2 linked regions of the Homo sapiens genome follow. The protein of the gene in region 1 interacts with the protein of each later gene in a biochemical or structural test. Each region holds a gene or a part of one and is shown on either strand. Other genes may lie near its edges.

What was found. Proteins that work in one complex are often made in the same cells at the same time.
Region 2: the proteins of TLK1 (region 1) and OLFM1 form a complex in vitro, tested with the Homo sapiens proteins (one large-scale study listed by BioGRID).

What each region holds. Positions count from the first base shown.
Region 1 is NC_000002.12:171,003,761-171,007,407, reverse strand, and holds part of TLK1 (serine/threonine-protein kinase tousled-like 1), read left to right. Parts: intron 1-344; coding exon 345-436; intron 437-518; coding exon 519-608; intron 609-764; coding exon 765-934; intron 935-1,125; coding exon 1,126-1,261; intron 1,262-3,647. UniProt on the Homo sapiens protein: Rapidly and transiently inhibited by phosphorylation following the generation of DNA double-stranded breaks during S-phase. This is cell cycle checkpoint and ATM-pathway dependent and appears to regulate processes involved in chromatin assembly.
Region 2 is NC_000009.12:135,094,134-135,097,780, reverse strand, and holds part of OLFM1 (noelin isoform 4 precursor), read right to left. Parts: intron 1,918-3,647; coding exon 1,762-1,917; intron 1-1,761. UniProt on the Homo sapiens protein: Contributes to the regulation of axonal growth in the embryonic and adult central nervous system by inhibiting interactions between RTN4R and LINGO1. Inhibits RTN4R-mediated axon growth cone collapse.

The DNA.
Region 1 (3,647 bases):
GTCATCTGTTTTCCTGGCTGCTTACTACTAGTATAGAGGAATAAGTCCATATTAAAAACAAATAATAGCTTTATTGTTTTATTTTTATTCAGTATATTGGCATTTATAAAATTTAATGTGAAAATTCACATTAAGGTTTTCTCTGATTTATTACCATGGAATTTCTGTCTTCTGATAATAAAAGTGTCATTGAGCTATATATAGTCTTAGCAGAGAAGATCATTAATAATTGTAGGGTTTGTCCTAATTCCATATTATTGCAAAAATTATCACCAAAATAAAAAACATCTCTTCAGCTATTCAATTGGTCTTTCATCTTAATTGTTTTTGACTTGAAATCCTAGGCTTTTGACCTTTATGAACAAAGATATGCTGCTGTGAAGATACATCAGCTTAATAAAAGCTGGAGAGATGAGAAGAAAGAAAACTACCACAAGTAAATACTAATACTTTATGGTTTTTTAAAATTGAATATTTTTTGAATGATCATGGAGAATTAATACACTGTCTTCTCATAGACATGCCTGCAGAGAGTATAGAATACACAAAGAACTGGATCACCCCAGAATAGTTAAACTCTATGATTATTTCTCCTTGGATACAGATACGTAAGTGAATATTAAGGTTCAATTTTTAAGGAAAGATATGCTTGCTTTCTCTTTCCCCATCCTGTGTTGATGATATAAATACTCTCCATTTCCCCATTGTGATTCTGAATTCTTGGATATTACTTATGTCTAATTTTTTTCTCTTCTCTGTTGTAGGTTTTGTACAGTGTTAGAATACTGTGAAGGCAATGACTTGGATTTCTATCTGAAGCAACACAAGTTAATGTCAGAGAAAGAAGCTCGGTCTATTGTAATGCAGATTGTAAATGCACTAAGATATCTCAATGAGATCAAACCCCCTATTATACATTATGATCTTAAGCCAGGTAATTATGAAATTTGTCTAATTTTTTTTAAACTTGAGTATAGTTTTTAAAAGTCATTCATTAAGTTATCTGAAAACATGTTTTTTGGTTTCTCTTGTAAGACATCAGTAAAATACTAGTAAAATTAAAAGTTATTAAAGTTATGTTTTTCATGTATGTATCATTAAAAGAATCTTATATTTTATTCTTAGGAAACATCCTACTGGTAGATGGAACAGCATGTGGTGAAATCAAAATCACTGATTTTGGTCTGTCCAAGATTATGGATGATGATAGCTATGGTGTAGATGGAATGGATCTAACTTCCCAGGGGGCAGGCACTTACTGGTAAGTGTATTACTAAAAACATCAGAATGTCTAGATTGGTGCCCAGTGCTTTTATAATAATTTAGTGTTTTTTTTTTTATTTCCATGTAGCCATTAAGATTACTGTGGTAAAGGTACTGATATTAAGCTCTCAGTTGAGAGGGAGACTTCTGTGGTCATTCCTCTTTTCTCATCTGTTCTTAACTGCAAATAACAGCATACTGGAGAGAGAATGACCTGGCATTAACAAGTGACTTCAGTACCTGCCAGTCAGAAACTCCTAACAGGAAGAATTCATTCATGGGTTTTCTTCTACAATGTTAGCGTGATGTTCATCATAAATATAAATACTTATGTTAATATAATATTTTAACTATTGCAAGCAAAAACTGCAAGCATCAAGCCCTCTCTGTGGAGGTTATATGGTTGCAGGAATTTTCATTTTATTTTGAGACAGGGTCTTGCCCTGTGCAGTGGTGTAATCTTAGTTCATTGCAGCCTCAAACTCCTAGGCTCAAGCGATCTGCCCACTTACTCTTGAGTAACTGAGACCACAGGTACGCACCACTATGCCCAGCTAATCTAAACTTTTTGTAGAGACCAGGTCTTAATTTGTTGCCCAGGCTGGTCTTGAACTCCTGGTATCAAGTGATCTGCCTCTCCCAAAGTGCTTGGATTACAGGCGTGAGCCACTGCACCTGGCTGGTGGTTTTTGTGGAAGATGGATGTTTTGTTGGCTGTGAATGGGAGATAAATTTGGCATATTCTTTGGACTTGACTTTCAGAAATCCCTTTTAAAGACTTGATATGTCTAGATTTAAATTTAGATATAATCACAGATTCATAGATATAAATCTAAATGACTGTCATCCCCTCAGTATACCTACGTGTTCACAAAAACTACTTCAGTGTGAATTTTCAAACTTGTTAAATTCACCAAAGTGGAGAACATAAACTATAAAATTTCAAAACAAACTTAGTTCTCAGAGAAAATTAGTTTAGCATAAAGAGTGACATTTTAATGGAAGAAAGATAACTGCGTTCAACTTCATTGAAACAGGATTGTGACTACAAACATAAATGTGACTTCAGGTTTTCCAGAACAGTATTCACACAAACTGAGCACATCATAACCACTTACACACGATGCCACTGTCTGTATAGATTTCACTTTTAATGAGCAGGGATTAGTCATATTCATGTATTCTTTTAAAGCCACTTTCAAATTTTAAATTTGGCTTGTGGCATTTCCTAGGAACATGGATAAGATAATAATGTCATGAATTTTTTCTTCATATTTTAAGAAAACTATTCAAACTGGTAACCCCCTGAAAGTCAATATTCTCAAAGTCTTTGGACTTTTTTCTTTTAGCAACAAGGCTCATTTTTTTTTTTAACAACAAAATCTTATTCTAATAAAACCAACAAAAACAAAGCATCTTGGTAGAATCTTAGATTCCATGGAAGATAGCTTGAAAACCATGTTCTAAACAATAAATTATTCTTCGTCTGCAGGACATTCTCATTATTTGTTTCTCTCTCACTCTGGCTTCACTAGTATAGGGAAGGACAAGGAAATTTCCCTTTTACAGATGTTCGAGGGACAAAGAGCTTATGTTTCAGGGGCTGTACTGGAAGGAGATACAATAATGGCATTGTTCTATAGGAACATGGAATGTATTTCTCATGGAAATCTGTGGTCCAAAAATTGGTTTATGTCTACAGTCATATTAGTTGTTTAGCTATGTACAGCTGACCTTGAATAATATAGGTTTGAAATGCATGGGTCCACTTTTATGTGGCTTTTTTTTTTCCGATAAATACATTGGAAAATTTTTTGGAGATTTGCAACAATTTGAAAAATCTCACTGACGAACCATGTAGCCTAGAAATATTGAAAAAATTGGCTGGACACGGTGGCTCACGCCTGTAATCCAAGCATTCTGAGAGGCTGAGGCGGGCGGATCACTTGAGGTCAGGAGTTCGAGACCAGCCTGGCCAACGTGGTGAAACCTCGTCTCTGCTAAAAATACTAAAAGTACAAAAGTTAGCTGGGCATGGTGGCCATGCCTGGAATCCCAGCTACTTGGGAGGCTGAGGCAGGGGAATTGTTTGAATCCAGGAGGCAGAGGTTGCAGTGAGCTGAGATCATACCACTGCACTCCTGCCTGGGCGACAGAGCAAGACTCCGTCTCGAAAAAAAAAATACTGAAAAAATTAAGAAAAAGGTATGTCACGAAGGCGTGAAATATATGTAGATACTTGTCTGTTTTACCATTTACTGCCATAAAATGTACACAAATCTATTACAAGAAGTTAAAATTTATCAAAACGTATACAAACACAGACTGTACCTGGTGCTATTTGCAGTTGAGAGAAACGTAAACAAATGTAAAGATGCCGAATT
Region 2 (3,647 bases), on another chromosome or scaffold:
CTGCAAGTAAGAAAATGAAATACCGTTGAAGAACTAGCTCACTAGCCTGCCTGAAACAGACAGCCATCAGGAAACACATATTTGCATGGTCAGTTAGAAAAATCCCACTGTAATGCTCGAGTTAGTCAAAACAAACTGCTTTAAGAGTTATTGAGATTCCCTCGTCACAATTTCTGTTGGAATTTTTTTAATGCGGTTTAGCACAGTATAGGCAAGCGCTTGCTTTTCTTCCCCCAGAGCCACAGCACCCCAAAATTGGAAACTCGGAGAGATGCCTGTGTCAACAACGTTTGCCAAGATGAGCTACCTCCCAGTTGCTGAAGACACCCCCCTCGTTAGAGGAGTCTGCTGGCCGCAGAGAAGGGAGTGCTGGCTCAGAGACATAAATGCTTTTTTGGTTAGACAGGTCAACATCTCTCCCTCCAGAGTAATTCATGATGACCAGCCAGATGCGAGGACAAAAATGTCCAACTGCCTCTGATGAGCACAATCGGCTCATTTCACCTCAACAGGATTGGGCCTGCTATTATTTTATTTATAATATAGATTTATAATTTCATTAGCTTGCCATTTCATCTATTTAATGTATCATTTTTAAAAGAGAATTAGTTCTTGCCTCATGCAGGGAGCACATCGAAGAAAAACATTAGCATAAAAAGGACGGGAAGACAGAGACAGAGTACACCAGCAGTTTCTAGTCGGGCGAGGCTGTGTAATTTGACCTGTTCATTTACATCTGGGCTGGATTTCTAATTAAAATGCATGTATACCTTCATTAAGGCGGCATATAACGTTTCAGTCGAATCGCACTGAGATGGAGTCAACTGTGGGCATCTCTCTACCTGGCTGCACATCTGTATCTATGATTTTAGGTCAAACAAACACCAGTTTTAATGTCCAGAGTTACCCGGAGAAGCAGAACACTTCCCACGAGGTGGAAAGGAGGCTGGCATCTCTCTCTTTTTTCCCTGCAAGTCTATGGTATGCTTTGTCATGGCTAGATTAGGTCAGATGTGAAAACTGCCCTGAGAGATTCCTGCTCCAGAATGGCCCTCATCAATTCAGCTAATCTTTGGCTAATGTGATTTACCTGCAGCAGCTGCAGAATGACAAGGGCCAATAACGATGTCCCTTCCCAGCTAATATTCGACTTGGCTCGGGCAGCGCAGGATCTCAGACCCCTGGCTTCCAAACCACACTGACGGGGGCTTGGGGGCGAGTGTATGCTGCTGCCACCACTCAGGCCGCCCCTGTCAAGGTGGCTTCTGCCAAGCCAGGGCCAGTGGTGGCCTCCCTACTGCCAAGGGCAACAGTCCTTTCAAGGCACAGAACAACCTTTGCTATGCTTCTCCCTGCCCCAAATGACCATTTCTGTAGGGAAAGGGAGAGCATGAAGGGAAAGCACACCCAGCCTCAGAGGAGGAGAAGAAGGAGAGGGAGGAGGAAGAGGAGGAGAAGAAGGAGAGGGAGGAGGAAAAGGAGGATGAAGAGGATGAGGGGGAAGAGGAGGAGAAGAAGGAGAGGGAGGAGGAAGAGGAGGAGAAGAAGGAGAGGGAGGAGGAAGAGGAGGATGAAGAGGGGGAGGAGGAGGAAGAGGAGGAGAAGAAGGAGAGGGAGGAGGAAGAGGAGGATGAAGGGAGGAGGAGCAAGAGGAGGAGAAGAGGAGGAGGAAGAAGAGAAGGAGGAGAGGAGGGAGGGGAAGGAGGAGGAAGAGGAGGAGGAGGAGGATAAGGGGAGGGAGAGGGGGAGGAACATGCATACCTTAAACTGCCTGGCCAGGTGTTGCTTATGACTCTCCTCCACCTGTTTGAACTTGGACTCCAGTCCTTTCATTTGGTTCTCCATCTTCTCCACGTACTGCAAGTCTCTCTGGGTCCGCCTGTCCAAGACCTCTATGGATTGAGACATGTTCTGCACCTGTCAAAAGGGCAACAGGTTCAGCAAAACAGCCGCAGTAGGTGCCAGGCAATCTTCTCTGCCTGCTCGTACAGACATTGCCCTTTCCCACACAGCCAGCACACTGGGAACCAGAAGTGGCCCATGCATTATTTACAAGGTAATCGCCAGCATCGCGGACTGTGAGGACTGATAACTCCCCAAACACAGCAAATTGGTTGGGTAAACATTTTCTTTGCCAACCTGTTCTTATCATCAGGGATGCAAATCAGGGGTGTAGGAGACTCAAGTTCCGTTATTCGCTGTAGCTCCAGGCACAGGCTGGGTGATTTCTCTTGATCTCTCTCTCTCTCTTTTTTTTTTTTTTTTGGTAGTGGTGGGTGGGGATTGTTCCTAGTCTTTCTGTTGCAGGACAACATTAGTTAGGCAAGCATAAACACCAGCAGAGAGGAATGGCACTCTTAGGCTGCCCCGCCCCCAGGTATAAATTCTCCTTCTTCCTAAATCTCATTGACTGTCTTGCTGATAAGGTTGATTACTTAAGTGCAGAGTGAAGGAACAAGGGAGCTGCTCTCCCTGACTCTGCATCAAGCTTTTTTCCCTATCTGCTATGCCATCCATCACACCCCACAGTATCATAGGTAGATGACTGCTCTGCAAACATGTACATTCTGAGCATAGAGTCAGGAATCAATCACCCAGCAAATGAAGAATCGCTGTTTTACATCTTTACAGGCAGATCTGAATTGAGTCTAGCCTCAAGATGGAACTTTAATATTCAACAGGATTCCAGGGAGCTTAAAAGAAAAACAGTTTTAGTGCAGCCACCTGCCAGTGCATTTTATTTGCAGGAAACTGGTGTGTGCTTCTGTGCAAATGCATTCGGGGCTGCGGGGAGGCGGGAGGAAGCTGAGGATTGCTGCAGTGGTGTTTGGGTCATTTTCTCAGAATCTAATCCAATTACTAGAGAGGAAGTTACCTCCATGACAGCAAATCTTCACTCCTGACTTTTCTGCTGAATTTGAAAATACTCTCCCTTCTAGGAACAAAATCATTTGGGGATGAGGCTTAGCTTTGCCGGTCAGTGTGAAAAGAGGACAGTGTGGTTTCTACTTCTTACTATACATCCTCCACCCCGCCAAATAAAGTAAAATACAAGAGAGCAAACCAAGCCTCCTCAGTAGAAGGAAAACCACTATTGCCAATCTCAGCACCCCAAAATGCAAGGAATTTCATATCTTGTTATCAGAAAGTAACACACACAAACTCATCTTGAAATTTTAAGTTTGTAAAGTACACGACGGGGTGGCTTCAGCTCCCTCTCACCCCTTCTCTTCCCCGAGAAACGGAAGCATACCTCTAATACCACCTGCCTGATTCTCTTGTTGTCTTCCTCTGTCACTTTGAATAACTACAGCACCTTTTTCAAGAAAAGATGTAAAGTTTGTCTATATTCGTCCTTCAAGGCCCAGCCCAAATGCCACCTCCTCCAGGGAGGCTTCTCTGATGGACTGAGTTAAAACTAGCTGCAAACTATTTGGAAACAACAACGTCACTTTGTTGGCACAATGTCTGCCTAGGAGTGAGCCACACAGCTGTCCCCCCACAGCTTTCCGGACAGGATGCTCATGGGGGGAGTGACACTGGGTCTCATCCACATCTGTAACCCCTGCACAAAGTCCAGTAAATCTAGTGCACGGGAGTAGCTCCTGCAGCCACATGGCCGGAGGAAGCAACAATACAAATGGCGG